4 linked regions of the Homo sapiens genome follow. The protein of the gene in region 2 interacts with the protein of the main gene of each other region in a pairwise test. Each region holds a gene or a part of one and is shown on either strand. Other genes may lie near its edges. The genes, in order: RADIL, MRFAP1L1, MEOX2 and SYCE1.

Region 1 (9,254 bases), on a different chromosome or scaffold from region 2:
GTGCGTGCCATCACATCTGGCTAATTTTAAAATTTTTAGTACAGACAGGGTTTCACTGTGTTGGCCAGGCTGATCTCGAACTCCTGATCTCAAGTGGTCCTCCTGCCTTGGCCTCCCAAAGTGCTGGGATTACAGGCATGAGCCACAAGCACTGCTATTTATAGGTGTGGAGGGCCTGAAGAATGGAATCCAAGGATTAAATCACTTGTTCTGCCACACCCCTCTAGGGATACCAGATGTAACAGTCTGGGAAGGAAAGGTTGGGATCTAATGCTCCCTGTGCACCTCCTAAAGCCTGCCTCCTCTCTCCTCTGGGCCCCGAAAAAGCCCAGTCTCTGCCCCTGGACGGCCATCCCTTGGGCACCGGAACTTTGGACCTTAACCAGATCCCTTTCCCCTGGGCTCAGGTCCTTTCCTGGAGTCAGTTGCCGGATTCTGTCACTCTCTGGTGGCCAAGCAGGAGAGCTCAACACTCTATTTTTGGCCAGTGGATTTCCAAAGATACTTAACCCGACAGTTCAAAAACTGCCCAGGAGCCAGATGCTGGGATACGGAGATGAATACAGCTTTGGACTTTCCCTGGAGGGAGGGGGTGAGAGTGGATGGAAATCTATTCCTTCATCTACTCATTTAACAAATATTTATTGAGCACTGGCTAGTTGCCAAGTATAATAGTAAACAAGACACATGAAGCCCTTGCTTTCCAAAAACACAAATTCTAGTGTGTGTTAAATACATAAGCAAATACATTGACATGGTGATAAACTCTATGAATTAAATAAAACAGGTGGTCAGGTGTGGTGGCTCACACCTGTAATCCCAGTACTTCAGGAGCCGAGATGGGAGGATCGCTTGAGGCCAGGAGTTTGAGACCAGTCTGGGCAACATAGGGAGACCCCATCTCTACAAAAAATAAAAATAAAAAAATTAGCCAGGCATGTAGTCCCAGCTACTCAGGAGGCTGAGTTGGGAGGATCACTTGAGCCTGGAAAGTCAAGGCTTCAGTGAGCTATGATTGCACTATTGCACTACAGCCTGGGCAACAGAGCAAGACCCTATCTCTCTGTCTCATGCTCTCTCTCTCTCTCTATATATATATATATATAAATTATATATTTATAAATATATATAAATTAAATCTCTCTATATTATATATATGTATAATATATATATGTATAATAAAATCGAGAATGACTCGGGGGTGATGGTCAAGAGGTGGTCAGAAGACAGGAAGGGAGATGAGTTTCTGCGCTGGGAAGGGGCCCAGCATGAAAACACAGAGGGAAGGCTGTGGGGTCAAGGAGACCAAAGAGGAAAGGTCTCGGAGAAGGGAGATGACCTCAGAGTGCTTGAGGAAAGAAGTTCTGAGGGCTGGAGATCCAAGGCCAAGGAAGAGAGCAGTTGGAGCTGGGTTTTGCAAACCTACTTTATTCTAAGTGCAAAAGGAAAAGTTATGAGAGGGTTATAGGTGGAGGAGTAATAACATCTGGTTTAGGTTTAAGGAACATAGTGTGATTGATGTGGACTTGCTTAATAAAAAGGTAACAAAAATAAAAGACTGTGGGCGCACACAAGAGGACATGTAACCAGGTCTAGGAGACAGGAAGATCTTTCTGGATAAGGGGTATTAGTTATCCATTGCTACGTAACAAACTGCTGCCAAAACTTAGTAGCTGAGGTCAATAATAAACATTTATCAGCTGGATGTGGTGGCTCATGCCTGTAATCCCAGCACTTTGGGAGGCTGAGGTGGGTGGGTCACTTGAGGTCAGGAGTTCGAGACCAGCTTAGCTAACATGGGGAAACCCCATTTCTGCTAAAAATACAAAATTAGGTGGGGGTGGTGGCAGGTGCCTGTATTCCCAGCTACTCGGGAGGCTGAGGCAGGAGAATCACTTGAATCCGGGAGGTGGATGTTGCAGTGAGCTGAAATTGCACCACTGCACTCCAGCCTAGGCAACAGAGCAAGCCTCCATCTAAAAAAAAAAAAATTATCATCTCATAGTCTTTGAGGGTTGGGAATTTGGGAGTAGCTTTGCTGCAGGGAGGAGGGAGCTTTTTTGGCTCAGGGTCCTTCAATGGACTCCAGCTGGGATGTCTGTCACCTAAAGTCTCCTGGGGCTGGAGGACTCACATCCACCATGGCTCACTGACCTCAGAACTACTGATCTAAGAGAGAGCAAGGGCAGAAGCCACGTCTTTTATGATTGTGTTCCAGAAGTCACAGTGTCATTTTGGCAGTATCTTACTGATTACACAAGTCTGCCCTATTCAACATGGGCCTATACAGGAGCATGAAAACCAAGAGGTGGGAATCACTGGGGCCATCTTGGAGGTTGGCTACTACCAAAGAAACGCCTTATCTGAGTCTCAAAGGATGAGTAGAAATTAGCGGCCGGGTGTGGTGGCTCATGCCTATAATCCTAGCACTTTGGGAGGCTGAGGCAGGCAGATTGCAAGGTCAGGAGTTCGAGACCAGCCTGGTCAACATGGTGAAGCCCCATCTCTACTAAAATTACAAAAATTAGTCAGGCGTGGTGGCAGGTGCCTATAATCCCAGCTACTCAGGAGGCTGAAGCAGGAGAATCGCTTGAACCTGGGAGGCAGAGATTGCAGTGAGCCAAGATTGCCTCACCGCACTCCAGCCTGGGCGACAGAGCAAGGTTCCATCTAAAAAAAAAATATATATATATATATATACACACACACATTTGAAAAAAAAGAAGTTAGCCAGGTAATGAAGTTTGCTGTTATGGTCTGAATTTTGTCCCCCTAAAATTCACGTGTTTGTTGAAGCCCCGACCCCTCACACCTCAGAATGTGACTATATTTGGAGACAGGGCCTTTAAAGAGGTGATTAAGATAAAATGAGGCTGTTAGGATGGGCCCTAGTCTAATCTGACTAGTGTCCTTATAAAAAGAGGAGATTGAACACACAAAGAGACAGGTGAGAGGTGCACACCCAGAAGAAAGGCCATGTGGGGGCACAGCCAGAAGGTGGCCGTCTGCAAACCAAGGATAGAGGCCCTCAAAGAAGCCAAACCTGCTGACAACTTCACCTTGGACTTCCAGCCTCCAGAGCTGCCAGATAAAACATTTCCGTTTTTCGAGCCACCTGATCTGGCATTTTTTAATAGCAGCTCAGCTAATCTAATACAGTTGGAAAAGGTGTTTGAAGGTCAAGGGACCGGCCTGAGGGAAGATCTCGAGGCATGAAACAGCATATTCATACCAAAAAGTCAGCATTTCTAGATCAAGAAGCAATCTGAAAAGTTTCTCTATAAAGGGCCAGGTCATATTTTAGATATTTGGGGCTGTAAAATCCTGGTTGCAGGAAAGCAGTCGTAGATAATATCTAAACAAATGAGGGTAGCTGTGTTTGAATAAAACTTTATTTACAAAAACAGAAGGCAGCCCAGATCTGGCCCATGGGTTGTAGTTATCCGACCCCTGTGGAAGAAGGATGTGGGGACTGTGGGAGATGGGCCAGGAGCAGGGTGAGGAATATCTCAGGAGGAAAACCCAGGCCTGAACCCAGGCTCTCCTTCAGCTCTGACCATTGTCTCTTCATGCGCACCTGAATGAAATATTCAAGCACGTCATTCCTTTCAAGCATCCCTTCCTGGGGTAGGCGAGGAGGTTGGTGTGTATACAGAGGGTCCTGTATTCCTGGCTCAGTTCTTGTCTCTACCTCCAGCAGCCTGACCTCTCTGCGTCTCTATTTTCTCATCTGAAAAATGGGAGTATTACTGAACAAAAGGGTTCTGCGCTTGCTCTGCTAGAAGCCAATCTTGATCAGGTGCAGAGGTTCATGCCTGTAATTCCAGCACTTTGGGAGACTGAGGTGGGTGGATCACCTGATGTTAGGATTTCAAAACCAGCCTGGTCAACATGGCAAAACCCCGTCTCTACTAAAAATACAAAAATTAGGTGGGCGTGGTGGTAGGTGCCTGTTAACCTTAGCTACTCGGGAGGCTGAGGCAGGAGAATCGCTTGAACCTGGGAGGTGGTGGTTGCAGTGAGCTGAGATCACACCACTGCACTCCAGCTAGGGCAATAGAATAAGACTCTGTCTCCAAAAAAAAAAAAAAAAAAAAAAAAAAAAAAAGCCAATCTTACTGCATTAAGTTTTTGAGACAAAAGCTTTTTTTGTCCGTATTGTGAGTTGATCAATAAGGAGACAGGAGCCTGGCTCAAATCTGTCTCTCTGTGTTGACTTTGAGGCACTATTTTTTATTAGAAAAGGTTTAGGAGGTGGACTTTAGGATTAGCAGGTGATAGGTGGAGGAAAGGGGAGGCCTGGAATGTCTCAGACATCTCTGTCTCACAAGAATTGATGTGAGCATTAAGTGAGGTGACCTAGGTAAAGTTGCCTAGGGCCTGGCACACAGGTGGTCAATAAATGTCTGTTCCCACACTCATCAATGTCTGCTCCGACCTCCATCGCGAATATGGGGTCATGACTACGGAAATCATACCACGATAGCTGTCCACAAAAAGGTTCACTCCCGAGGCCCACATTCTGCATATTGATATTCCGAACCACCTGAATCTCCCAGGTCTAGCCCACATTCCTCAAAGGGAAAACCCCAGCCAAAGTGCCGAGGTCACGAGCTGCTTTTTAAACAAGTCCCCAGGGAGAGCAGTTGGGGCCAGAGCCCCAGAGCTGACCTGGTCATTTTTTTGCATAATTGTAAGCAGGAATGCCATGACCTGATTTGTCTTTTAAAACTCTGGGTGGGAGACAGATGGTAGGGGAGAGGAAATTCCTCCCTTGTTCCTTTTCGATGTCTTAGAAGATGTTTATTAATTGGGGGCACAGCTCTACCCTCCCCTACACCCACTCACTGGGCTACTAGAAGGTGCTGTCTCGAAATAGCCCACCCAACCGCAGGAGCCCAGAGCCCACAAGCAGCTCAGGGACTTAGAACTGGTCCCACCCTTCCTCCGGGGACCCCCCCTCCTTAAGCTGCAGTCTGTGGGTGGGCTGCAAGTCCCGCCTCTCCACAACCAGCCCCACCCCTTTCTTCAAAACCCCGCCTCTCCGGTGAGGCCCCGCCCCCTCGAGGCTGCATCCCCGTCCATTGGGCGGCCGGCAGGAGGCGCCAGAGCACAGCCCGCCTTTTCTAGCAGGTTGGCCCCGCCCCTCTCCTGGAGACCCCGCCTCCTCGAGGCTTTCTTTCTGCCTATTGGGCGCCGAGGCCCAGCTCCAGCCCACCTGTTCTCCCCCGCCCCACCCTTTGTGGCCCCGTCCCCTTGAGGCCCCGCCCCGCCCGTTGCGCCGCCGGCAGGAGGCGCCGCGGCACGCGCGGGTCTGGGCGCCGGCCCCAGCCAACGGCGGGTGGGAGCAGCGCGGGAACGTGGCGGCGCGGCGGGTTGTGCCGGAGGTGAGTGTGGGGTGCGCGAGGAGTGACTGCGGAACCGGGGGTGGCTCGTAAGGGGCGCTGCTCGGCCGCTGCCGGGGACCTGGGGCGCGGAGGCCGCGGGGCGCGCTCGGGGACACTCCCGGCCGCTGGTCGGGGCGCGGAGGGCAGGTTTGCCCAGTTGCCATGGGAACCGACTGGCTGTCGGGCCCCGGCCTGGACCGGGGGGCGGTACCCGGAGGCCGGCTAGCGCGGGCAAGGGCGGCCCAGCCTGCGGGGATCCGGGGGTCCGCGCTGCCGACCCCCGAGAGCTCCTGAGCCTGGCTGTCCGCGTGGGCCCCGGACCCCCAACTCCAGGGGACTCTCGGCCCTCAGTTTTCCCGGCTGTGCCCTGGAGGGGGAGCTTCGTCCGGGGCGCGCAGCGGGGGAGCGGGGCGCAGCGGGGGAGCGGGGCGCAGGGTTCCGCGCGCTCTCCCACCTGGGCCGGCGAGACGTCCCCTGCACATACCCCGTCCCGGTTGCAGCCCGATCCCCACTCGTGCGCCAGCTCAAAGCATTGTTTCCCGGCTATTTATGTACCATTTCCAGCCCCTCGACAAATACTGCATCCAAGATAACAGATGCTGAGCCGAGCTCCTGGGGCCTCGCAGGAGGAGCCTGTTGGTGGGGTTGGCAGGGCCCTGGCGGGGCTGCGGACCATCCTGCCCTGCCCTGTCGCCTGTCAAGTGTTTGGCTAATCTGAATTGCACAGAAGAATCTGATTGCTCGTGTCCCGCGGTTAATATAGGCCACCTCTTGTGCATTCCAGACAGGAACCAGTCTTGAAAGTCCCTTTTGCTGGGGGGCAAGTCGGTCTCCTCTCCAGCAGCTAGCAGGTCAGAATTAAATCTGATTGAATTATGTTTGCATTTGAAAGCGTGGCTCGGGCTGGGGCTGTAAAGATAGGATTCATGGAAGGAGGGGAGAGAGCTGAGTGTGTAAAGTCTGCGCTTCGTTTTCCCTCCTGCTGGAAATGATAATGGGTTCCACATTGTCCTGTTGGAGCAGAGAGGTCGCTCCACCCATGTCGTCAGCGCAGCACTGACCTCACTCCCTGTACTCGCCGCTGGGACTTGAGCTTGTTTTTCATCAGAAACTGGACCCTTCCTTGAGAACAAGAGAAAACATTCTCTAAGAGCAGCACCAGCCAGCGCCCCACACCCTCGCTGTCCGAGCCCTGCGCTTTCCCCAAGTATTTGTGTCACAGAGGAGCGAATGGGGCAGAAGAGGCCGGTCGCACTTCCAGAAAAACAGATCTTGTTACCCAGGGCGTGCTCCGCCCGGTCGGATTTTCCTGCACTCCCCTTGGCCTTTTAAAAAACGAGTCCATCCCATTCTCACAAACAGGCCAGGCTCCGCCTTCTGGGATTCGGAAGCGGGCAGCGTGTGAACAAGTGGGCACCCTCTGGTCTGGCCAAGGGAGGATGACCAAACGGAGAGAAATGCTTTCTGAAAATCCCAAAACAGATAAGGTTTGTGTAACAGGGACTTCTGGGGGCTTAAGAAGGAGTTATTGGAAAGGAGTCAATCATATTCTCTCTGCTTACATTTTCTCCTGTTTCATGATACTGCTAACTCTGCCTCTGCCTTCGAATCCGGCTCCGGAAACTGTGGGAAAAGCAGGGGTGGGGGGAAGTGGGGGGAACAACATTTCTGAAGTTCAAGCTTCTAAGACCCTGGGAGGAGACCTAGCAGTTGTGTGTTTGTAATTTTCTATTTGTTTTTTATTAAAGAAGAATTATGTAAATGTCAGACCTTACAAAACATATATCCACCCCTGGGCCCCAAATATCAACTCACTTTTCCATTGTATTTGGGGGCCTTTTTATAATTTTTGTCTTTTTTTTTTTTTTTGAGACGGAGTCTCACTCTGTTGCCCAGGCTGGAGTGCAGTGGCGTGATCTCGGCTTGCTGCAACCTCTGCCTCTGGGGTTCAAGCGATTCTCCTGCCTCAGCCTGCCAAGTAGCTGGGGTTACAGGCACCCGCCACCATGCCCAGCTAATTTTTGTATTTTTAGTGGAGACAGGGTTTCACCATGTTGGCCAGGCTGGTCTTGAACTCCTGACCTCAAGTGATCTGCCCGCCTCGGCCTCCCAAAGAGCTGGGATTACAGGCATGAACCACCATGCCCAGCCAATTTTTGTCTTTTTTTTTTTTTTTTTTTTGAGAGGGAGTCTCACTCTGTCGCCCAGGCTGGAGTGCAGTGGCATGATCTTGGCTCACTGCAAGCTCCGCCTCCCGGGTTCACGCCATTCTCCTGCCTCAGCCTCCCGAGTAGCTGGGACTACAGGTGCCCACCACCACGCCTGGCTAATTTTTTGTATTTTTAGTAGAAAAAGGGTTTCATAGTGTTAGCCAGGATGGTCTCGATCTGCTGACCTCGTGATCTGCCCGCCTCAGCCTCCCAAAGTGCTGGGATTACAAGCGTGAGCCACCGTGCCCAGCCATCTTTTTTTTTTTTTTTTTTTTTTTTTTTTTAACAGAGAGGGTCTCACTCCATTGCCCAGGCTGGAGTGACGTGGCGCAATCATAGCTCACTGTAGCCTGGAACTCCTGGGCTCCGGTGATCCTCCTGCCTCAGCCTCCCGAGTAGCTGGGACTACAGGTGCACACCATGCCCAGCTAATTTTTTATTTTTATTTTCTGTAGAGATTGGGATCTTGTTATGTTGCCCAGGCTAGTCTTGAACTCCTGGCCTTAAGCCATTCTCCTGCCTTGGCCTTTTAAATACTTGGCTCTGCTTCATGACTTTTCTGTGATATGGGCTTTCTCCTGCCTGGAGGGGGCTTCCCCAGTTTTTGGTATCGTATTTATATCAGCATTCAGACTTCATCTCCGGAGGCAGAGGTTTCCTGAGCCACAGCTGCCTGGTGGCAGAGGCTGTACCATCCACCACCTGCACTTTGCCTTTGCACCCTGGGGAACCCGTTGGAAATGAGCACTATGAAAAGGTGGTGGCCGACCCTCTGCCAGTGTGTGCTGCCTGGAGGCTTCTAAGCCTGGGGCATCTGGAGAGGTGCTTTGGAGCAGGGTTGTGCAGCTCTCATGGATGGTTAATAAGTGCCGGCTGGAGAGGCTCTTTGAGGGGTTTTGTTCTGTGATTCCAAGTACTCACTTTGAAAACTGACCACAGGAGACTGAGGTCAGACTAGAGGGCGATTGGAAGCCGCTGGTGTGGTGTGCACAGGCCAGGCCGCACGTTTGTGATGTGAGCACTGTCTGAAAATGCTTTTGTTGTAAATGAAACCGAGGCCTTTGATGAGTCCGTGGGGGAAGCTGCGGCCGGCTCTGAGCTTCTTAGGATTTGACAAGGCCACTCGTTGCACCTTCCTCAGAGGAAGAGAAACAAAGGCTTTGCTCCTTTACTCCTTTATGGCCTGGCTCGATGGAACCTCAAGGCTCCATCTGCTTATGACCTGTACTGGGAACTCCGTGACCTGTTACAGCAAATTCACCTCTTCAGAAAGCCAGGCACAGCGAAAGCCTTTGCCGTGGTGAAGTGTCCGCAGTGGGCTATAGGAACAGGAGAAGGGCCAGCCACCCACCCCGCAGGGCAGACGTCCGCGTTGGGAACCCAGTCTCTGGTGTGCGAAGCTGTCGGAAGTATTTCTGAAGAGTTCAAGGTCCTCGGAGAAAGCACAGCTGCTGGCTGACCTGGGCTGGTTCTGGAGGAAGCGAGTGGTGGTCTGATTTCAGGACTCACCCATGACAGCTCTGGCGGGCAGTGAGAGGCTCCAGAGAAGATGACCCACGCCCCGGTGATATTAGAAAGAGGCCAGTTCGCAGTGTCAGCTTTGGAGGCTGGGGCGGTTCCACTGTTTAGTTTCCTAAGGGACAGTGTGGCTCCTTTT
Region 2 (8,637 bases):
TCCTTCCAACCTGCGAAAGGAAGATAAATCTTGGGGTCCTACAATTACTAAGCTAAAAGAAAAGTCAAGTTGGAAACTGCTTAGGGCAAACCTGCCTCACATTCTATTCACAGTCACTTCTCCGCTCACTGAGATAAATGCGTATCTGATTGCCACCTTTGGAGAGGCTAATCAGAGACTCAAAATGTCTGGGCGCGGTGGCTTACGCCTGTAATCCCAGCACTTTGGGAGGCTGAGGTGGGTGGATCATTTGAGATCACGAGTACAAGACCAGCCTGGCCAACATGGTGAAACCCTCTTTTAAAAATACAAAAATTAGCCGGTTGTGGTCGTACACACCTGTAATCCCAGCTACTTGGGAGACTGAGGCAGAAGAATTGCTTGGACCTGGGAGGCGCAGGTTGCAGTGAGCCGAGATCACGCCACTGCTCTCCAGCCTGGGCGACAGGGTGAGACTCCATCTCAAAATAAATAAATAAATAAATAAATAAAATTTTAAAAGAAAGAAAGAAAAAAAGAAACTCAATAGAATGCAACCATTTTTCTCTCATCTACCCAAGACCTGGAAGCCCCCTCCCCGCTTCAAGTTGTCCTGCCTTTGCTTTGAGTTGTCTCACCTTTCCGGACCAATCCATCGTTCATCTTAGATATGTTGATCGATGTCTCATGTCTCCCTAAAATGTATAAAACCAAGCTGTGCTCTGACCACCTTGGACACATGTCATCAGGACCTCCTGAGGCTGTGTCACGGGCACACATCCTCAACCTCGGCAAAATAAACTTTCTAAATGAACTGAGACCTGTCTCAGATATTGGGGGTTCACAAACCACTTGCTCTGGGGAAACCAGCTGCCTTGTTGTGAGCAGCTCCATGGAGAAGCCCATATAGCAAAGAACTGAGACCAACAGCTAGGGAAAAACAGCCTCTTTCCAACAACTACATGAGTAAGTCATCCTGGAAGGGGATGCTCCATCCTCATTCAAACTCAGAAATGACTGCAGCCCCAGCTGATAGGTTGACTGCAACCTCATGTAAGATACTAAACTGAAATGACATAAGATAATGCTATGGTCTGAATATTTGTGTCCTCACATCCAAATTCATATATTTAAATTCTACCCCAGAAGGTGATTGATAGGGTTTGGATGTCCTGCCCAAATCTCATGTTGAAATGTAATCTCCAGTGTTGGAGCTGGAGCCTGGTGGGAGGTGACTGGGTCATGGGGACAGATTTCTCATGAATGGTTTAGCGCCATCCCGTTTGTGCTGTTCCTGTGATGAGTGAGTTCTCGTGAGATCTAGTCATTTAAAGTGTGTGGCACCTCCTGTCACCTCTTGCTCCTGCTTTGGTCATGTGACATGCCTGCTCTCCTTTTGCTTTCCGCCATGATTGTAAGTTTCCTGAGGCCTCCCCACAAACCAAGCAGATGCCAGCACCCTGCTTCCTGTAGAGCCTGCAGAACCCTTAGCCAATTAAGCCTTTTTTCTTCACAAATTACCCGGTCTCAGATATTCCTTTATAGCAATGTGAGAACAGCCTAACACAGTGATGATATCAGGAGATGGGGCCTTTGGGAAGTGATCTGGTCATGGGGTCAGAGCCCTCATGAATGTGACTAGTACCCTTATAAAGGATATAAGGCCAGCTGCAGTGGCTCATGCCTGTAATCCCAACACTTTGGGAGGAAGAGGCAGGAGAATTGTTTGAGGCTAAGAGTTTGAGACCAGCCTGGGCAACATAGCAAGACCCCCGTCTCTAAAAAAAATTTTTTTTAAAGCTGGGTGTGGTGCCATGTGCCTGTAGCCCCAGCTACTCAGGAGGTGGAGGCTGGAGGATCACTTGAGCTCAGGAGTTTGAAACAGTGAGCTATGCTCATTCCACTGCACTTTAGCCTGTGCAAAAGAGCAAGACTTTGTCTACAAGTAAATACACAAAAGATGTATAAGAGGGCCGGGCACGGTGGCTCATGCCTGTAATCCCAGCACTTTGGGAGGCTGTGGCGGGTAGATCACCTGAGGTCAGGAGTTCAAGACCAGCTTGGCCAACATAGTGAAACCCCATCTCTACTAATAATACAAAAATTAGCCAGGCGTGATGACAGGCACCTGTAATCCCAGCTACTCAGGAGGCTGAGGCAGGAGAATCGCTTGAACCCGGGAGGCAGAGGTTTCAGTGAGCAGAGATTGTGTCACTGCACTCCAGCCTGGGCGACAAGAGTGAAACTCAATCTCCAAAAGAAAAAAAAAAAAGGATGCATAAGAGAGACCCCTTGCTCCTTCCATCCTGTGAGGACACAGCAAGAAGGAACGGTTTATGAACCAAAATACTAGCCCTCACCAGACAGAATCTACTAGCACTTTGATCTTGGACTTCCCATCCCCCAGAACTGTGAGAAATAAATTTCTTTTGTAAGCTGCCCACCTTATGGCATTTTGTTAGAGCAGCCTAAATGCACTATGACAGATAATAAATGTTTTAAAGCTGCCAAATTTTGGGTTAACTGGTTATGCAATAATAAACCACTGAAGGAATATGCTACTATTTATTCATTTTATTTATTTATTCTCCTGCTGATGAACATTTGGGTTAACTTTGGGGCTATTATAATAAAGTTGCTGTGAATATTCTCGTATATGTATTTTTATAAACAATTGCACTCAAACTCTCTTGAGTGTATAACAAGGTGTCAGTTTGCTAGAACATAGGATTGGTATATGTTTAATCTTGGTTGATACTGCCAAATAGTTTTCCAAAATTATTGTAACAACTTACATTCCCATTATTATGTGCTGAATATATGTGTCCCCCAATATTTTTTTATGTTGAAGCCCTAACCCCCAGTGTGGCTGTACTTGGAGTAAAGCAGTAAGTAAGGTTAAATAAGGTCATAAAAGTGGGGGCATGATCCTATAGCTTCATGTTCTTATAAGAAGAGACACAAGAGAGCACTCTTTCCTGTACCCCCCAACACTGCATGCACAAAGAAGAGATCATGTGAGGACTGCAGCAGGAAGGTGGTCATCTGCAATTGAGGAAGAGAGCCCTCACCTCCAGAAACCAAATTTGCTGACACCTTAATCGTGGACTTCTGGCCTCCAGAACTGTGAGAAGATAAATGTCTGTTTTTAAGCCAACCAGTCTATAGTATTTTGTTATGGTGTCCAGAGTAGACTAAGACATCCATCAAGAATGTATAAGAGTTCCAGTTGTTCCACATCTTCCCCAACACTTGGTATTGTATTTGAAATTTTAGTCATTCTAGTGGATGTACAGTGCTTCCTCATTGTGGTTTTCATCTGCATTTCCCTGTTGAATCATGACGTTGAACACCTTTTCATATACTTATTAGCCATTTGAATATTCTCTTTTGTTAAGTACCAGCCTACGTCTTTTGCCCATTTAAAAATTTTGTCTTTTCCTTCTTGATCTGTAGGAGTTCTCAATATATTCTGCATATGAGTCCTTTGTCAGTATAACTATTGAAAATATCTTTTTTCACGGTGTCTTGCTCTTTCCCTCTTCATGTTTTTTTGATGAACATCTGCTAGAATGTTGGTGTTTGCAAAACTGTTTCACGCATGTCATCTTACAAATCCCTCTTCCCACTGACAGATATTCAGGCTGGGGCCATTGGTCTTTATCAGACTGGAAAACTGAAGCTCTGATCTGTGGCACTTGTGTTAAGAAGGATGCCCCCTCTACACACACTCATATTACTACTAGTGTGGCACTGGGTGGCTAAGCCTAGCAACAGACTTCCTCCATTCCACAATGGCATTAGGTTAGTGATCAAAATGTACTGACCATCAAAGCCACATTTACTAGGTCCCTGCTGATTTTCAGGTCCTGTGTGTGGAGGGACATAAAGGTGATCAAGACCAGAACCTGTCCCCAAACAGCCTCCAGTCTGGTAGAAGCACTTATGTACTAGAGAAGAATTCCTCTCTCTAAAGCATCCCCTAAGACCCTGCTTGACGCCAGGCTGACAGGAGGGGCGGAGGACAGAACTGAAACAGAAGTAGCCCTTTACCTTGAGGACCTTACAGACTGGCGAAGAGAGACCAAAAACCACCGGCCAGAATCACCCAAGGCAGCGAGAGAATTTCCCCCCAGGACAAAAGTATGAGCCAGGGGTGGGGAGGACAGAAGGACGTGTTCCATTCTAAAACAGTGAGCAGGGACTGTGGACCCACATTGCTCTGGGCTCAAATCACGACTTTTAGCACGGTTTTTACCTCTAGGTTCGTTGTGAGGGCTAAATGAATTCATATAAGTTAATTCAAGCTTGTGCATGCTTAGATAGTAAGCGCTGTGAACGCCAGCCAGTCTTATTCAAATATAGGGAAGGGAGGGTCACTTTTACTTTTAAAAAATAATAAAAGTAAAAGCCCGCTGAAGGGAAGCTTTAGATGAAGACGCGAACAAACCTGCCGCCACCGATCTAAATTAGAGGGCGAGGAGGGGCGCCGGGAAGCAGCTGGTGATGGACGTGCGCGCGCCCGAGGCCCCTTTACGTGCACGCGCCCGCTACCTGGTCTTGCCGAAGGCGTGACCGTAAAGGGGCCCGGCTCTGTCGTGAAAGGGCCGCAAAAAGGCCGAGGGCGAGTTGACGGCTGCGACTCCATTTTGTAGGCCGCTTATTTGTGTGCATCCACGGCGATTCTTCCCGCAGAGTTGTGAAGCGAAAGGCTTACAATTAAAAGGAAGAAAAAAAAATAAAGATAATTCGGGAGTACAATTGACAAAGCGTGTGGGTCGCTCAGCCTCCAGCAGTAACTGCTGATCTCCAGTTCTTGGAGGGTTCCGGTGAGAAGAACGCCCCTACTGCGGTACTGAGGAAGCGGCAGGAGGAGATGCGGCCCCTGGACATAGACGAGGTGGAAGCGCCTGAGGAAGTGGAGGTGCTGGAGCCCGAGGAGGATTTCGAGCAGTTCCTGCTCCCGGTCATCAACGAGATGCGCGAGGACATCGCGTCTCTTATACGCGAGCACGGGCGGGCGTACCTGCGGACCAGGAGCAAGCTGTGGGAGATGGACAATATGCTTATCCAGATCAAAACGCAGGTGGAGGCCTCGGAGGAGAGCGCCCTCAATCACGTGCAGCACCCGAGTGGCGAAGCCGACGAGAGAGTGTCGGAGTTGTGCGAGAAGGCTGAGGAGAAAGCCAAGGAGATTGCGAAGATGGCAGAGATGCTGGTCGAGCTCGTCTGGCGAATAGAGAGAAGCGAGTCTTCTTGAAGGAGGAGATCGGTGGTAAGGTCGGAAACTAGCTGGAGCTTGGATGAAACTCAGTAGTCGCCCTAAGCATGGTTAAACCGCGCCCTGTAAAAAGTTATGTTCTAGGCCTGCATCCCCCATTTTATTGCATCAAAAATTGAGCATTGGGAACAAAGTTGGGGTCAAGAGGAAAGAATGCGTGCTGGTTTTGTTAGGCGTTAGTATACCGTTTTTTTGTGGCCTCTCCCTCCCACGCTGTTAATTAGAGAAAGATAACAGTAACTTCGGTTTTGTTTTTGTGAAACATAAAAGTCAATTCTAATAGGGCAGTCGCCAGAAGTAGACCTGTCTAGGCACTAAGGGAGTTTGGGGAAAGCCAAAGAAGACCTAGGCCATAGAGCACAGTGGAACGCAGGCTGAGAACGCAGGGAAGGAGAAATAAAGAGTAAAGCCAGAGGCCATTACCTGAAATTTCCAGATTGTTCTATGAGACAGGTATGTCAGAGGACCGTGTCTCAAAGAAGTGGCATTCTTCTGGGTGGTTCACATTTATTTTTAACATCAGGATATGGAACTTTGAGAGTCAATGTCTTCATGGTAAATTTCTCCCAATTGTGCTTTAGGTTCACAGCTGAGGACTGTAGTCAACTGGTAAGGATGAACTGACACCTTGAGGAAACTGAAACAGCTTGTCATTTTCTCTGTTTTGTTTTTGTATGTTTTTTACCCCGATGTAACAGTCTCCCTTATGGTCAGTGATTGATGACCTCGATATGGATTTAGATTATCAAATGTGTTTGGTTTTGGAAATATAACTTTTGTCAAAGAAATACTCTCAGAAGAGAAATGGGGCTTAATTAAGTTGTTTTTGTGGTCACGTTTATTCTTGTTACTTCGCTGTGTTTTTGAAATGTTGGGCATGGCCTCGTATTTTGCTGTTACCTTTGTGACCTGATTGTTTTTTGGAACACGTCAAGACGTGGGATCAGAATCTTCCAACTTTAGAGGTGCAATGGAAGACACTACGCTACTTGGTTGAGCCTGGTGAAGAATGTATTAATGAGACTGCTTTGCATAAAACTGGGAAGAAAGAGAAGACAGTTGGAGATGGAAGATGGTTTTGTATATATTTTGGAACTTTAGTTCCTCTGTGAGACGAAAGAGGAGAGCTATGTTTTGTGGCACATTGTCTGATATATATTGTGTAACCTGTCAGGTGAGTTGATTTAGACAACATAGCTGACCTTTTATGACAAGGCAGTTTGAATAGGGACTATTGTAATACCCTCACACATTATAGGGGCATCAGAGAATGGCATGGAAGAGACAGTCTACAGAGAGCTTTAAGAGGCCGGAGAAAGGAAAAGACATTATCAGGGCCTGGAAAGTCTCTTCCAGTTCATCAGGGTAGTAGACCTGTCAGATTGGAGGTCAAAGTCAAAAGTATAATAAGTGTTAATTTGCCTTGAAAAACAAAGACCTAAAAAGCCTTTTTTAAGAAATAAATTTTTTGTTCACATGACCAAAGCCCCTCCTGTGTGTGTTAATAAAAGAATCATAAACAAATTTTTTTGGAATGGATGTTCTTCATTGAGTGTCATCAAATGGGGTTGAACTGCTTGTAGTTAAAGGCTCTTGGTAAGCCTTTAACTGAGGGAGAATTATTTCTGGAAGGTGCTATGGAGATGAGCTGACAGAACACTCAGTTCTGAAGAGAAAAACTTTCGGCCATCCTCTGGGCCAAGCCCCTGCTTTTCAGCAGCGGAAGTGTGTTTAGTTAACCAGTGGGAATGTAACTTGCTTCATATCCTATCCAAGGCACTAGGAACGTAAAGGTGAAGACATGGATGGGGCGAATATGTGGGACAGAAATGGAAACAAGGAATTGTGACATAGAGTGCGTGGATATCTTGTGGGATCCCTGAGGAGGGAGTCAACTCTTCGTAGGGAAGTGTGAATTCAGAGCAGGTGACTTACCTGGACCTGAAAAGTAGAAATGAATGAAGGCATATAAGGGACAGGGATCAAAGTGAGCAAAAGCCTTTCCAGTTCCAGCACTGGGGAGATGGCCATTGAGCTGGATGTTAAGGAGTGTGGAGGGGGTTGTGGGAGACAGAGTGAAATTGGCAGGCAGGGCCAAGAGGTCTTCCTTAAGGTGTTAATTCATCGATTCATAAGCCTGTACTTCAGTGAGATTTCTTCACCCTGGAATGTTTCTTCACAGAGTGCTAATGGATGCTCAGAGCCATAGTGTAGGCATGGTACAATTTCCAGAATTACTAAATCTAATTTCATAAAAATAGATACATGATCATAACAAGCTCAGATACACGTTTTGGATTAATGTGTAAAATAGGCATTTTAAAAATCAAGTACCTGAGCACAGAAAAATTACAGAAGCTGTTTCTGGCTTTGTCATGATATCTAAGATCCTTGCTCATGTGCCTGCCTGTCTGGGTTCTTCAGTAAAAACGAGAAGTATGGCTGGGGAGCCATAATTTCTGATAATCAGGAGAATGACCGTCACATTTGTAGTTTAGGAAGATTACCCAAGACTGGGTATGGATTAATGTGAGTTTGAGTGTGGGCTAGAAGATAGGGGCAGGTGCAGAAGTAGAGATGGGAAGTGAGGGCCTGAACTGGGGCAGAATGAGTGGGAAGGACCAGCTAGGCTTTTCTGGAGCCAAGACTTGGGGTCTTTCTATATCAGTCAACTAGACTAAACTGCTGTAACAGTTCACCCCAAAACCTTAGTGGCTTGCAACACCTGAGGATTTTTTTTTCTTATTCATATTGATGTATTAATACATTGTAGGTGAGTTGTTCCATATTCTCTTAATTCTAGGAGCTGGCTGAAGGAGCAGCTGCTCTTTGGGATATTGTGGATCTTGATTGCGAAAGCTGTTATTTACAAGTTACCTGACGGATTTAAAAACATGCTTTGGGGGTGAAAAATCTGAGTCCTGTACATACACACTCGTAGACACACACACATACTATATATGTGCTACATACATACACGTGTGCATATATACTATGTATATGTATGTTTTTCCCCTCGATTAACTGACCATAGATTATATTCATACATAGGATTGCATTTCATCTCTTCAGTATCCTAGGGTTTTTTTTTTTTTTTTTCCTAAGCCTCCTTCAAATTTACAGCCTAAAGAGTGTTCTGAATCATTTTTGAGCCTTGGCTCTTAGGCAGAGCATTGTAGTGACAGGCTAATTGTCTTAACCCATGCTGTGATGAAAAAATAATTTAGATACATTGAGAGTTTTGTCTCTATTTCCTATTTAACTTACACATTTTCTTTTCATTGAATGATGTGTCAGTGGAATTTTAACAACTTCAAAGTCATCTAGAAAATTTGGATTGGCTTCTGTTAGTAGCTCTGAAAGTCATTGGTCTGTCT
Region 3 (4,325 bases), on a different chromosome or scaffold from region 2:
CTTGCTCTGTTGCCCAGGCTGGAGTGCAGTGGTGCAACAACCACTGACTGCAACCTCAACCACTTGGGCTCAAGCAATCCTCCAACCCTAGCCTCCTGAGAAGCTGGGACTACAGGCACTATGCCATCCCACCCACCTAATTTTATTTTATTTTATTTTATTTTATTTTATTTTATTTTATTTTATTTTATTTTATTTTATCTATTTATTTGTAGAGACAGGGTCCCACTGTGTTGGAAAAGGCAACCTTTAAAACTCTTAGAAGAAGACACAATAGAATATCTTACTGGCTTCAGAAAATAGATTTTTTTAGAAAAAGAAAACACAAAACACTAGTCATAAAAGAAACAATAGATAAATTTAAACATATTAATTAATATTAAGAGTTTCTAATCATCAAAAGACACTCTAAGAAAAGGAAAAAGAAACAGCATACATTGAGAGAAGATAGATAGCAGCAGCCATATAACTGCAGTCTCCAGGGAAGTTCCCATGATATGCTTATCAGGACACAAATGCAAGAATGTCTATAGCAGCATTACATATAGAAAAAAAAGAATTCAAATATCCATGGATGGTAGAACAGAAAAATGGTGCTATATTGACAGAATTTGGAATATTATACAATGATAAAAAATAAATAAATAGAGTCTTTTGAATCAACAAAGATGTGGCAAAAAGCCTACACTTAGGAACATTCCATTGATAAACCTAACAAACAAATAAAATTAAAGAGTATAGTTTTAATATTACTTGTTATGAAAAAAATTTGTTTTCTTTTTTAAGAAAGACTTGGAGGTGACACACAAAATTCAGGCTTGTGGTACTTTTAGGTGGGGTAGACAGAGAAATACAATGTAAAAAGAACACTTTGCTTGCTAGAAGCTATAATTATGAGAAATGCAATGTGAAAGAAACAGATTTCCTCCTAAACAAGATGCAATAATGCCAATTATATTCTAGTTCTGATAATGTATAGACCTTTAATGTCTGTTTGCTGTTTTTTTTGTTTTTAATACATATATGTTATTTAAATATATATATTTATTTAAATGTATTAGGCAAATTCAATGAAGCTTTTAAAAAGAAAATACCTGTACAAAGCTGATGTGAATGATGTAGTATATAATCTTGGTGTTAGCATTTAACAAATGTTGAGAATTTTTTATTGTGACCATATTTTAAAGAAATCACTAGATCAAATATTTGCAAAGTAAAATAAATGAATTAAGGTAGAAAATAAAAAGAAGAGTTCAAAAGAAGATAGGCTCAGTGTGAGGTGGAATGGTCAAATAAAGATTTGTGAAAGCAGCAGTAGTTTCTGATGGCAGAGTATGGCCTTTCAGATGCCGCTTAATCAGTAGCTGCAGGAGCATGTTTTAAATTGGTTCAGGAAATGACAGCTGGATGTCAAATCAAAGAAGAACTTAGGAGTGGGGGGCTTTGACCAACACAAATATTATGTTAGCTCCAATTCACAGAAGCTCTTTATAGACGCAAGTGCTTTGAGTGCCTTAAATGACAAAGTTTTTGTTTAGTTCCATATTTTACATTGTATGCTGTAAAATACAAATATAGTACTTTGTATGCACCTTTTGAAACTTTAAAAATTATTATCATGAACATGTAACCTGATTAAATTCAACGTGGATTTATTTTTCTATTCACTCCTTCATGGTGTCTTTGTATAAGCCTTTGAGGAACTTCTTTTCATTGATGACACTAAGGAGAAAAAAATGTCACTTTAATTATCTCTTTTTTTCTGTTTGTTTGTTCCCTTTCTTGGTTGAAGGTGAAAGTCTGGTTCCAAAACAGGCGGATGAAGTGGAAGAGGGTAAAGGGTGGACAGCAAGGAGCTGCGGCTCGGGAAAAGGAACTGGTGAATGTGAAAAAGGGAACACTTCTCCCATCAGAGCTGTCGGGAATTGGTGCAGCCACCCTCCAGCAAACAGGGGACTCTATAGCAAATGAAGACAGTCACGACAGTGACCACAGCTCAGAGCATGCGCACTTATGATATAAACAGAGGACCAGCTCCATTCTCAGGAAAGAAATGTTGTGATGGCAAGCCTTACCCAAATATCGTTTACACAGAGAGATGACTATGGCAGTGATGTTTAATATTATTAAATCCAGGCATTTCGAATCTGTTTTTCATGATTTATAGAGGGTTTACACAAAGTGCCACTTATTAAAGAGCTTCCACAGTGAAGATGGAGAAGGTGAACTTGCTTTGAATATTCCAGATGTGTTTGGTCGTGCGTATGGCAGTGAGCAGGTATGTGTTTGCTTTTGCTTGCACTGAAAATTAAATTGCTATCAAGAGCAAACTATGAACGGTTTTTTATTCAAGATGTCTCCAGAGTGAAGATGCCGAGGATGAACTTGCATTGAACATTCCAGATGTGTGAGATCATGTGTATTACAGTGGGCAGGTATTTGCTTTTGCTTGCACTGAAAATTAAATTGCTATCAAGAATAAACCATGAAACATTTTATCCTGAACAGCCACAGTGCCTGAATTCACTCAAGTGGATAAAAAGTGTATTTTAACTCTGTATATATTACCCTTAAGTCATTTTCCTGTCTTCACTAATTTAGCAATGCATTCATATTAGCTGATGAAAATAGGCACTCACAATGACAACCAGAGCCAGTTTCTTGTCTTTTTTATACATTTTGTCATCCCAGAGACAATCAGTATGTGCTTACCTGTGTTCAAGTAGAGAAAAATACAGTAGAGTCTGATAGGACATATTCTTGTACCACAGACAAAACAAATCTTATGTTGCATTTACTATCAACTGCTGCTAATACGTTATTATAAAACTTACCTAGCTCCTGAATTCTTCCTATCTTATAGCTTAAAACAATTAGGATCATAGGCAAATCAGTTACCTTGCAGAAAGAGCTTTGTATGACAGACATTGTCTTATTTTATTTCTGTAAAATATTAGCTGTATGAATATGATTTAATTAACAAGAAAACATTTCTTCCTGATTGACAACAGTGTTAGACAAGGTGCAAAGCGAAACTGGTTGCTCAAGTTGATAGAAAACAAAATTCTGAATATCTTCAAATTAAATTCGGTAAAAACACATTATTTTTTCATATGTGATGTATTCATGCAGAACAACTATCTTTGTATTTTGTTTTTAAAATGTGTTTAATAAATGATCCTTTGTAAATAACTTTGGTCTCCCTACATTAATTTTCTTAATTTTTATAGATTTCAATATCAATGATTAACAAAGTCTCAAATCTATCTGCACTTGTGCAAATCCAGATGATTATAATTAGTGGATTATTTACATTTTTTCATTTCTGAATTTTTTTATTATGGCAGGAAAAAAATAAATCCTTGTGTAATCAAAGGGCGCCTAAGAATGGGCATATATTAAGCTATTTCTCTAATTTGAAGAATACAGTGAATGGATTTTTTTGTGTGTTTTATGAAGCCACAGATAAAAGTAGGAAAAAAGTATTAAATAATAGTATTCACCACAGTGAGGAAAATAAAATAGTCATACATTTTTAAAGTTATGTCTGATATATGTAAGTTAATCCAACAGTGGTTTTATAGTCTGAATATGCAGAGTCTCTGATGTGAAATATAAGCTAAAGAAGCTAATCAGAGTCCTCAGTTCTAATGGGACTAATGCAAGAAGTAAAGGATGCTATTAACATAATGTATTTTGCATCATGCATGATTGCACACGCATGGGGTGCCTTAGTCCTACTTATAGCTTTATCACATTGTTTTTCATTTGTTTCATATTCTAAGCAGAAATGCTTGGAAACATTGCCAGCCTTCCTCCCCTGCCTCAATCCGAAACAAATACAGAAAAACAATCAGTAAAAATTTCCAAAAACCCATCAGTTAATTGATTACACTTGCTTTAGAATGATCAGACTGACAAAAATTAATTTGATATATTTTAACTTAATCTAGCGTGATATATAGAGAGTATCCCAGAAATAAATAATTTTTTTGTATCACATTTTCCTTTCATGTAATACATTTTACCTCAGTAGTTGTCAGTATTTTAAAATTAACTGAGAATAGACCATTCGAATTGAGGTCTCCCAGGCATGAAACAGACACTTTTCCATTAATCACCTGAATTAATACAAAGTCTGCTTGTGCTGATGACATCTACTTGGGTGGACTGACTTTCTTACTGTAGAAGAGGATTTAAATTCAAAACATCTTGACAAATTAGTGAAGTGGGAAGATATGAATCAAATTGAGTTCAATAGGGACAAAGTGGAGGATAATTCATTTGGGCAGGAAAATAATTTCCAGAAATAAGAGAAAAGGACC
Region 4 (9,197 bases), on a different chromosome or scaffold from region 2:
AGCTGGTCTTAATTTTTCCTTATCATTAGAGTGTCCAGTAACCATACAAGTTGTGTGATCATTTGTTTGTTTTGCTTAACTGGTATTTTTTTTTGTTGTTGTTTCTTTCTGTTTTTGTTGTTTTGGTCCTTTTCCTATTGGGTTTGGCCAATTCTGACTTGATCAAATCCAAAGGAAAGTTCCAAATTATGTGGAACAAGGCCTCTGAAGTGGCTAAATTCCCACCAGAAAAGGGGTGGTGGGGGAAGAAAAAACAGCCAGCAAAAGGAAAAAAGGGGGGGAAGATTTTTGATTTTGACTACTTAAGGGGATTTATTTACATAACAAGGCCACCTTTTTGCTAGCCAGGCCAAACTGAAAGAGAAAGGATTGTCACCCCAACTGCAGTTCCATAGCTAAGGTTCTGTCTTCTTTTTTCCATGACAGCCTGGGTTTGGTTCCTAAATCAAGACCTTTCTGGTTTGATACTTGGTACTTCTGAAATAGCAGATATTTGTCCTAGCTGAAATATGTTGATGAGATCTTAAAAATTTTTTAAAAAGAAACTCAAATGGTTAAAAGTCATCTTAATTAAAAGCTAACATCCAATGTGTGTGTGTGTGTGTGTGTGTGTGTGTGTGTGTGTGTGTGTGTGTGTGTGTGTATTTAAAAGGGCTTCATGATTTTTCTTTTTTCTCTCTCCTAGGACCTTGTGTTTTTTGGGCAAAAGTTTTTTTTCTTTTCAGTTGACTGAATGCTATTTTCTTCATATAGTTCTGCTGTCTCTCCTTTCCCTTGAACGCTCTGCTGCATGAGGGACCTAAAATAGTTTATAATAGCCTGAGGTTCCTTAAAGAAAATGGAGAAGGCACCAGACTCCCTTTTGTGGAGAAAATTGTTTTTCCTTGTGTATCCCCAAGAGTGTAAACACACAAGTTCATGTCAGCTCCTAAACTGTTTGCTTTTGTATTGTGTTACCTGATTTTTTTGTTTATTAATTATTGCAACAGAAGCTACTCCTGCATTTTTAAGGAAGAGTATATTTTAGACACTTAGAAATATTTTTTTAATGTTTTTTAAGTACACTGTAAAAGCATCCATGTGGTCGAGCCTCATAATAATTCTCCCTTTTTGCAGACCCAGGATTCAGTGTGGCCTCTTCCCAGAGCTCAGAGATCCAGTTAAAAGATAGGTAGTCACTATCTAAATAAAATTGGTCTCCTGTGATCCAACCACCTCCCACCAGGCCCCAACTCCAACATTGGGGATTACAATTCAACATATTTGGGTGAGGACACAGATCCAAACCATATCACAGGCCAAGGCCAAGGCCGAGGCACGGTTGAGAAGGCTCAGAGGCACCTGACCAAAGTTTGTAACAGTTTTGATTGACAATACCAAATTACCTTACACTGATGTATACAAGATGCCCAGTTTTTCATTTTTACCAATCACCTATGTTTCCAAACGTGTTTATCTTTGTCAACCAGATATGCAAAATTAAGGTGTCTCCTTACAAACTTTCTGATAGTAAATATCAAAAGTTTGGGTGCATCTTATTTTCTAAGACTATGTCCTAAGTAATTCTGGATATGGCTAATGGGCAAGGTGTTCATCACTGTATTGTTTATAATAGTGAAAAACTCGAAGAAGCCTAAATATGCCTTAGGGGATTTGTTAAATAAATTATAGCACATACACAGGATGAAATCATTTACAGCCATTAAAAATCATGCATACATGCATAAGGCCAGGCTCAGTGGTTCACATCCATAATCCCAGCACTTTTGGGAGACTGAGGCAGGAGGACTGCTCAAGCATAGGAGTTCAAGAGCAGCCTGAGCAATGCAGCAAGACCCTCTCTCTACAAATAAAAAATTTAAAAAAATTATCTGGGCATGGTGACATGTACCTGTGATTCCAGCTACTCAAGAGGCTGAGGTGGGAGAATCTCTTGAGGCCAGGAGGTCAAGGCTGCAGTGAGCAGTGATTGTACCACTGCACTCCAGCCTGGGCAACAAAGCACAATCTCGTCTCAAAAAAAAAAAAAAATCAAGCATAAAATTTTGTGAAATGCTTATTTTTGAGTTTATGGAGTCCCCTCATTTTGGTCCCACCTGAAATCTTACACAAATTACTGCTCATAAATTTTTGCATTAAGTTTTAAATTATTCAAGTAATTGGCATGTGTGAAAAAGTATGAAGAAAAAATTGAAACACCAACATTCCCTTTCCCCAGTCATTCCCCTTTCTAGTAATAACTGCAGCCAGTTAGGTGAAGACTAATAGACTTTTTACTAAAATGTATCTAGTGTCACTGACCCTAGATAACATCCCTGCTTCCTTTTTAAAACAGATAGACTAAAACTGGAATCTTGTCCTTTAAATTTCTTCTGTAGCTGGTCACTATAGAATGTTTGTGCCCCCATCCATAGTTCGTATGTTGAAATCCTAACCCCCTAGTGTGACTGCATTAGGAGGTGGGGCCTTTGGGAGGTGATTAGGTCATGAGAGTAGGGCCCTCAGCAATGGGATTAGTGCCCTTATAAGACCAGAGAGGTCTGCAGCAACTTCCCCAACATGAGGACACAATGAGAAGACAGAAGTCTATAGCCAGGAAGCAGGCCCCCACCAGACGCTGAATTGCACCTTGATCTTGAACTTCTAGCCTCGAAAACTGTGAGAAATAAGGCATTTCTGTTGTAGCAGTTTGAACTAAGGCACAAGCGACATTGGTTAAAACTTACCTAAATATACTAGGTTATGTGAGGAACATGGAGCCATGATACTGAAAGGCTAGCACACCGGCGGGCCAGCAGGTGCTTAATGAAAGGGATACGTTTGCGTCTGTCCTGTTTACTTGCTTTGTCCTTCGCTGGGGCTTTCACTGTGCCACATCTCACTGTAGGGATGCTTTCTGTGCTAAGCTTGTTTCAGTATTCAAACCTTCATTTTGTAAGAACATGACAGAGCACCTGCCATGGCATTCACGCAGGTAGGGCTGGAGGCAGCCACCGACGTTTGTTAATTGCAGAGTTTTAACTCAAGGGGGACAGATGATCTCAGGACAGAATGACAAGCTGAGTGACAGCAGGAGGGACGTCACCGTACAATTCTCTCCACTTTTCTGTAAGTTTGAAAATCCTCACAGAACACCCAGAGGCACACAGTGTCCTGAAGTGGAAACGGCCAGGACAGTGTCCTTTCTCTTTGTTGGGCTGCAATTTCTGGACTTCTGTACAACTCTGACCAGCTGCCTGTCCCCTCCCTTCCCAGGGTGAGGTAGGAGCCACTATGGCAGGTCGGGGTCAGGGAGAAACAAACGGGGGATCTGCGTGGAGTCGGCCTCCCCCGGCTCCCCGGGGCGTCGGGATGCTGGGTGGGGGGCCCCACTGTCAAGAACCAGTTTAGTGCGACTGGGAAATCTGGACACTTGCTGGTTCTAGGGAGAGGAAGGTGGAATTAGGAATTCCCTTGGGATTGGGAGCGTCAGGAAAATATCCTTTTTGTTTTAAGAGGTGTGTATGTAAAGTCTGTGGGACAACGGGAAGGGATGTCTTTTGACTAATTACCTAAACCAAAATTGGAGCAACTATGATAACAGTTCAATGCTTTAAGACAAAGTGGGGGGTGTGCGGGCAAGCACTCCCTCATCTTGGCCGAAATTTTTCTGAAGAAACCCGCTAAGTCTCAATCAGCAGCATCAGGACTGACAGGAAGAAGCAGCCGCCACCCGCGCCCCAACCCTGCCCCGCCTCGGCGAGGTCAGACCCTCACGCACAGTTCCCTGCCTCCCACCACTACCTCCGGCCTTCTCAGCCCTGTCCACGGCTCCTGCGGTGGGCTCGGCCTTCGATGTCAGGGACCTCCCCGCCATTTCCTCTCAGCTCGCCAGCGAGGGTGCCTCGGGAGGGAGCCTCCAGTGGTGATTGGAGCAACCGCCGCTGGGGGCAGGACTCCAGGCAGCGCGCCTGCGCAATGCACTCCTGCGCGCGCCTGGAGATGTGAGGTAATTCTCCGGCAGGCCTGCGTGGCACTAGTGCGCATGCGTAAAGGCGCGAGGGCTACAAACGCGGCGGGAAGCCCGCCAGGGCCACGTGCGGCCGTCCAGGCTTGCGATTGGCCCGCTGCCGGGTGCCCCCGCGCATGTGCGCTGGCTTCCGAGGGGACCGGCCCTGGTTCTGGAGGCCCTCCCCACCAACGAGCAGTACGCATGTGTAGCGCCGAAGCTTCCTGTGAAGTGTGCGTGTCTGACGGATGACGACTCCACAAGGCGCTGTGGCCCTGGCAGCCTCATGAGGTTGCGGCTCTGCGGGACCACACCGCCGCGGGAGTGCACGGGCCCCAGCGAGTGAAATCTGCGGCAGCCCCCGCTGGGCCCGCTGTTCCTGCGCGCGCAGAGGAGCGTAGCCTGCCCCTAGGCCGCGTTCCCGTGAGCTCCATGCCCACAGTGGCCGAGGCCGGCCACAAGCCCACGGTCCCTTCTGCACGGTCCCTGCCGCGCTGGGGCCACCGTGGAGGCCCGGAGGGCCCTGGGAGGAGGGAGGAGGAGCAGAGGCTTTCGGGAGAACCCAGCCCTTCACCGGCCAGGGGAGGCCGCGATGCATCGCGACTGGTTGTGAAGAGCCAGGGGAAGAACTTTACCGTGCAGGTGAGTGGGAGACATCAGAACACCTGCCTGTCCTAAATACGAAGCCTCGAATCCTAACCTATAAAAGGTTACCTTAGGGTTTAGGGTTAGGGCTACAGATTAGAGCTAGGGATTAAGGTTAGAGTTGGGGTTGGGGTTAGGGTTTAGGGGTTAGAAGTTAGTTTTGGGGTTAGGAGTGGGGTTAGAATTAGGGTTTGGGGTTAGTGTTAGGGGTAGGGGAAGGATTGGGGTAGGGTTAGGGTTGGGCTAGGGTCGGGGTAGGGGTAGGGTTTTACGGTTAGGGTCAGGGTTTTAGTGTTGGGGTTAGGGTATTGGGGTTAGGGTTTGGGGGCTAGGGGATTAGGGTCAGGGGTGGGGGTTAGGGTTTGGGATTTGGCTAAGGTTTGTAAGGGTTAGGGTTTTAGGGTAGGGGATAGGGGTTAGGGTTACGTGTTGGGGTTGGGATTAGGGTTAGGGGTTACAGTTTAGGGTAAGGGGTTAGAGTTAAGGGTTAGGGTTAGCATTAGGAGTTACAGTTGGGTTAAGGGTTAGGGGTTAGGCTTAGTGTTGTTAGGGTTAGGGTTAGGGTTAGCATTAGGAGTTACAGTTGGGTTAAGGGTTGCAGGTTAGGCTTAGTGTTGTTAGGGTTAGCTTCAGGGTTCGGTGTCAGGGTTTGGGGTGGGGTAGTGGTAGGTTTAGGGGTAGCGTTGTGTGTTAGGATTTGTGGTTACGGTTCGGGCTAGGGTTTTAGGGGTAGGCATAGGTTCGAGTTTGGGTTTGGGTGTTAGGTTTATGGCTAGCATTAGGGTAGGGGTTAGGTGTAGGAGTAGGGGTTGAGGTTATGAGTTGAGGTTAGGGTTAGGGGTCAGGGGTCCGGTCAAGGGTTGGTGTTGGATTTAGGGATTAGGGCTAGAATTAGGGGTTAGGGTTAGGGGTTTGTGTCGGGGTTGGGTTGGAGGCTTGGGTTCAGGGTCAAGTTTAGGGTTGGGGCTAGGGCTTAGGGTTATGGGTTAGTGTTAGCAGTTAGGGTTAAGGTTTAGGCTTAGGGTTTAGTGCTTGAGGTGGGGGTTAGGTGTTAGGGGTTAGGGTTAAGGGTTAGTGTTTTGCGTTAGTGGTTAGGGTTAAGGGTTATGGTTAAGGGTCAGCGTTAGGGTCAGGGGTTAGGGGTAGGGGTTGTGCTTAGTTTTAGGGTTAGGGTTCCTGGACGGATGGTTTTCCTGCTTGGGAATGTTCCTGGGCTGTGAGATCCACTCTTCTGGGCAGGTGGTTAGCACCTAACGTTTTCCCCTTACTTCCCCCCAAATTCTTAAGTCCTTTGGTCCATTTCATTACTTCTTTTGGGGAGGGCCTGATTCCTCAGGGCCTCAGTGGCAGAACCAGCCTGAGGTCACCTCCCTGTCCATGGGTTACCACGGCCCCTGGGCAGGCATGGGGAGCTGGGGTGGCTTGGGTTCCTGGCCTTGGCACCTCCCTTTGGGCGGCTCTGGAGTGTGGCTGGGCTGTTGGTACAGGAGCCACAGGCCACTGCCTTTTTGGCTGAGGGGACCCTAACATCCTGGAGCAGGTGGGGCAGGGCCCATGGTCTCCTCTAGGTGGGAGGTGGGAGGCTGAGGCGGCGTGGGCAGGCAGGTGGATGGCGAGGCAGCATGGGCAGGACGGTGGATGGCGGGTCCACAGGGGCAGCCAGCAGCTCCTGCACCCACTGGGGCTCCAAGACTGTGGGCAAGGGAGGAAGGGGGAGCCCAGGCCGGAGGATCCTGGGGGACGGTGCGGCCCGGGGGCCAGATGTGGTCACCGAGCCCAGCCAGGCCTAGGGCCGCAGCAGCCCCAGGGCACTGAGGGCGCCACCCAGCCCGACACAGAGGCACAGGCCGCCCGTGGGTCCAGCGCCCGAAGTCCACGTACAGTAGCTGTAGATGCCGAGCCGGTCCTGTTGCCTCCGGGAACCCAGTCCTCCTCGTCCTCCAGGCCGCGTTCCCCGGGTCCCGCGGCCCTTCTCCAGCCTGAGCCCGCCGCCCCGGCCGCAGCCACGCGCAGGGAGGAGCCCGGGGCACCATAGCACAGCGCCGGCCTCACACACACCCTCGAGGCCCCTCTCGAGCCCCCGCGGAGCCCTCCGCGGCCGCACGCAGAGGAAGGCTGCCTCCTGTAGCAGAGCCCAGCCATTCGCGGGTGCCCAGTTCATCTTCATGGGGCTAAACCTGCGGGAAGAGAGGGAAAGGGCCCTTAGTTTCCATGGAGATCGGGTGCCCAGAGGCGGAGGGCTCAAGGCTGGAGAGCAGAGGGACCCCCATCTTTTGTGGGATCAGGGTGCCCCCAGCATCTTGGAGGCCCACTGAGGCCTGGGGGGGCGCGGTTTAACCTCTAGCATCAGGGACTTAGGCCTGGGGGAGGCGCTGGGAAGTGGCAGGTGGGGCAGGAGGGGCAGGAGGGTTCTGCACCTGAAGGTTGTGCACCTGGATTGGGGGTGTAGAAGCGGGGCAGGAGCGTTCAGGCCTCTGGGGGCGTCCAGGCCCGGGCGGGGGAGCAAGCCTGGGGGAGGGAGCTCTGCACGCGTTGCTGGGATGTGGGGGGCGGGGGGAGGCGGCATGGGGGGAGGGGCGTTGTGTTTGGAGGACGCGGTAGCCGGGACCAAGAGCTGGCTCAGATCAGGGTCTGGAACGGGGACGGGCCGTGCCTGGGCCTGGTCCCCACCTTTGGGGCCAAAGCCTGGGTGCGGGCCTTGCGGATGCTGCGGAGGACAAGCGGCTGCTGACACCGTGCGGACTCCGCCCCAGCAGACCCGTGCCCCAGGGACAGTCCCTCCCGCGCGCGCCCAGCGCTCAATGCCGTCCCCGGCCGCCTAGTTCAGCAGCTGGCTGGGGGCGGGACGGGGTCGAGTTGCGGGGCCGCGTCCAGACACGGCTGTGCGGGCGACAGCTGCATCCCCTCCCCGCGCCGCCCCTCGCTCCCGGCCCCGTACCCGCCCCAGCCTCCCGGCCTTACCCGCCACGGGCCTCGGTTGGAACCGCGCGCTGGAGTATCCGTCCCTGAGGCCGCGGCCGAGCGGGAAGGAGCGGGCGGGCGGCGGCGCGGACCCTCAGCCGGAGCGCGGAGCCGCGGCGCCTGGGTTTTGCGCGAGGCCTCCGCCCTGGGATTGGGGCGGGCAGTCGCGGAGGCGCATCCCTGGTGAGCCGGTGGGAGGGGAAAAGGATGTCGCGTCCCCCATCCTTGCGGCCTCCCGTCCTCCGTCACCAGCCCCCTCCGTCTCCTGCATCACAAGGCCCCGTCCCCGCGGTCCCCCGCGACCCCCGCACCCGGCTCCGCTCCACCCGCCGTGCTTCCTGCCCCTCCACACCCTCGTCCCCACCCGGGCCCATCCCCCTGTGAGCCCTGGTGCCCTGGGATGAGGGCCGAGGTCCTGAGCGGAGAGGGTGCTTGTACCAGCCCCATGGTGGCTCGAGCCCACCCCGCGGCCCCTCCCGTGGCAGGTGCGGTTTCTCCACCGGTTGTCAGCTGCGGGGCCGGGCGGAGACCTCCTCAACCTCCGGCCTTGTTTCAGGGAGGATGGGGTCGACCCTTGCGATCCCCAGAGGCCCCCCATGGCTCCTTCTGGGCTGGCTGTCTTCCTCCTGTGGGTTCTGATGCCACCTGGGCCGACGGCGTCTTCTCAGCCCAGGGCGGCCGCGCCTCCGGTGAGTTTCAGCTGAGGGCGCGCGGCCAGCTCCGAGCCTGGCTCCGGGTGCAGCACCGGCCTGGGACCTCTGCTGTCCCGTGTAGGGGTGCCCTGCAAATATGTGATGAATAAGTGAAGAAATACGTTTTATCTTCTAACTTGCCGGATGTTAGAAGGAAACCAAGCTTATGCTTCTCATTTATAGCTACCGTTAAGGATTGGACAGAAGCTTAGCTTTTTGGGTGAGACGGACAACAGTGTTTTTAGAACCTTTGGCAAGGAAGAGCTGGAAAGAACATGTATTTGAAAGTGACTGACAGGTCTTCTGGCCCTAGGGGGCCACCTGAGCAGGTGCACCCAGCTTCCCTCCAAGACAGAAAATAAATTAACAAGGAGAGCAGGAAGGGCCCCGGCAGACTCCAGACGGGAGGGGGTGCTGCCCATCAGGCAGAAGGAGCTTGGAAGGGAGGGGCCGTGGCCATGGGACGTGGAGGTGGGAGCGGGGGTCATCATAGGTCTGCACACTCGGGTTGAGTCCCCCTTCCCCATCACACACAGGACAGCCAGCAGTGAGCTGCTTACCCCAAGGAGTCAAGGGGGTTCTTGGGCAACCCCTGGTGCTGGAGCCGGCAGTGGACAGCACCGCAGCCAGACCTTGCTTATTTTTGGCTCATGAGGAACATCTGTGACCGTTCCCTCCCCTGGCCCTGGGAGGGGATGTGTGACCTCCACTCAAGACAGCCATGCGGCTCCTCCGGCTGCGGGCGGGGAGGGCATGTTTCCCAGCACAGGCCCAGGACTGCCAGCTGAGAGGCTGGGAGGGGCCCCTCACCCCTAGACTTTGCATGTGAAGCCAAGCGTGGAGCCTCACAGGGAATCTGAGATGGGAGCCAGTGAGATGGGGGCAGGACCCAGAGGGGAGAAGAGGTCCTG

What was found.
Region 1: the proteins of MRFAP1L1 (region 2) and RADIL interact in binary tests that used the Homo sapiens proteins (3 or more experiments, as listed by UniProt).
Region 3: the proteins of MRFAP1L1 (region 2) and MEOX2 interact in binary tests that used the Homo sapiens proteins (3 or more experiments, as listed by UniProt).
Region 4: the proteins of MRFAP1L1 (region 2) and SYCE1 interact in binary tests that used the Homo sapiens proteins (3 or more experiments, as listed by UniProt).

What each region holds. Positions count from the first base shown.
Region 1 is NC_000007.14:4,879,729-4,888,982, reverse strand, and holds the start of RADIL (ras-associating and dilute domain-containing protein), read left to right. Parts: upstream 1-5,266; 5' UTR 5,267-5,387; intron 5,388-9,254. UniProt on the Homo sapiens protein: Downstream effector of Rap required for cell adhesion and migration of neural crest precursors during development.
Region 2 is NC_000004.12:6,705,848-6,714,484, reverse strand, and holds MRFAP1L1 (MORF4 family-associated protein 1-like 1), read left to right. Parts: upstream 1-4,619; 5' UTR 4,620-4,855; coding exon 4,856-5,239; 3' UTR 5,240-5,254; intron 5,255-5,841; 3' UTR 5,842-6,784; downstream 6,785-8,637.
Region 3 is NC_000007.14:15,610,079-15,614,403, reverse strand, and holds the end of MEOX2 (homeobox protein MOX-2), read left to right. Parts: intron 1-1,792; coding exon 1,793-2,017; 3' UTR 2,018-3,192; downstream 3,193-4,325. UniProt on the Homo sapiens protein: Mesodermal transcription factor that plays a key role in somitogenesis and somitogenesis and limb muscle differentiation. Required during limb development for normal appendicular muscle formation and for the normal regulation of myogenic genes.
Region 4 is NC_000010.11:133,561,674-133,570,870, forward strand, and holds the start of SYCE1 (synaptonemal complex central element protein 1), read right to left. Parts: upstream 3,911-9,197; 5' UTR 3,857-3,910; coding exon 3,784-3,856; intron 1-3,783. UniProt on the Homo sapiens protein: Major component of the transverse central element of synaptonemal complexes (SCS), formed between homologous chromosomes during meiotic prophase. Requires SYCP1 in order to be incorporated into the central element.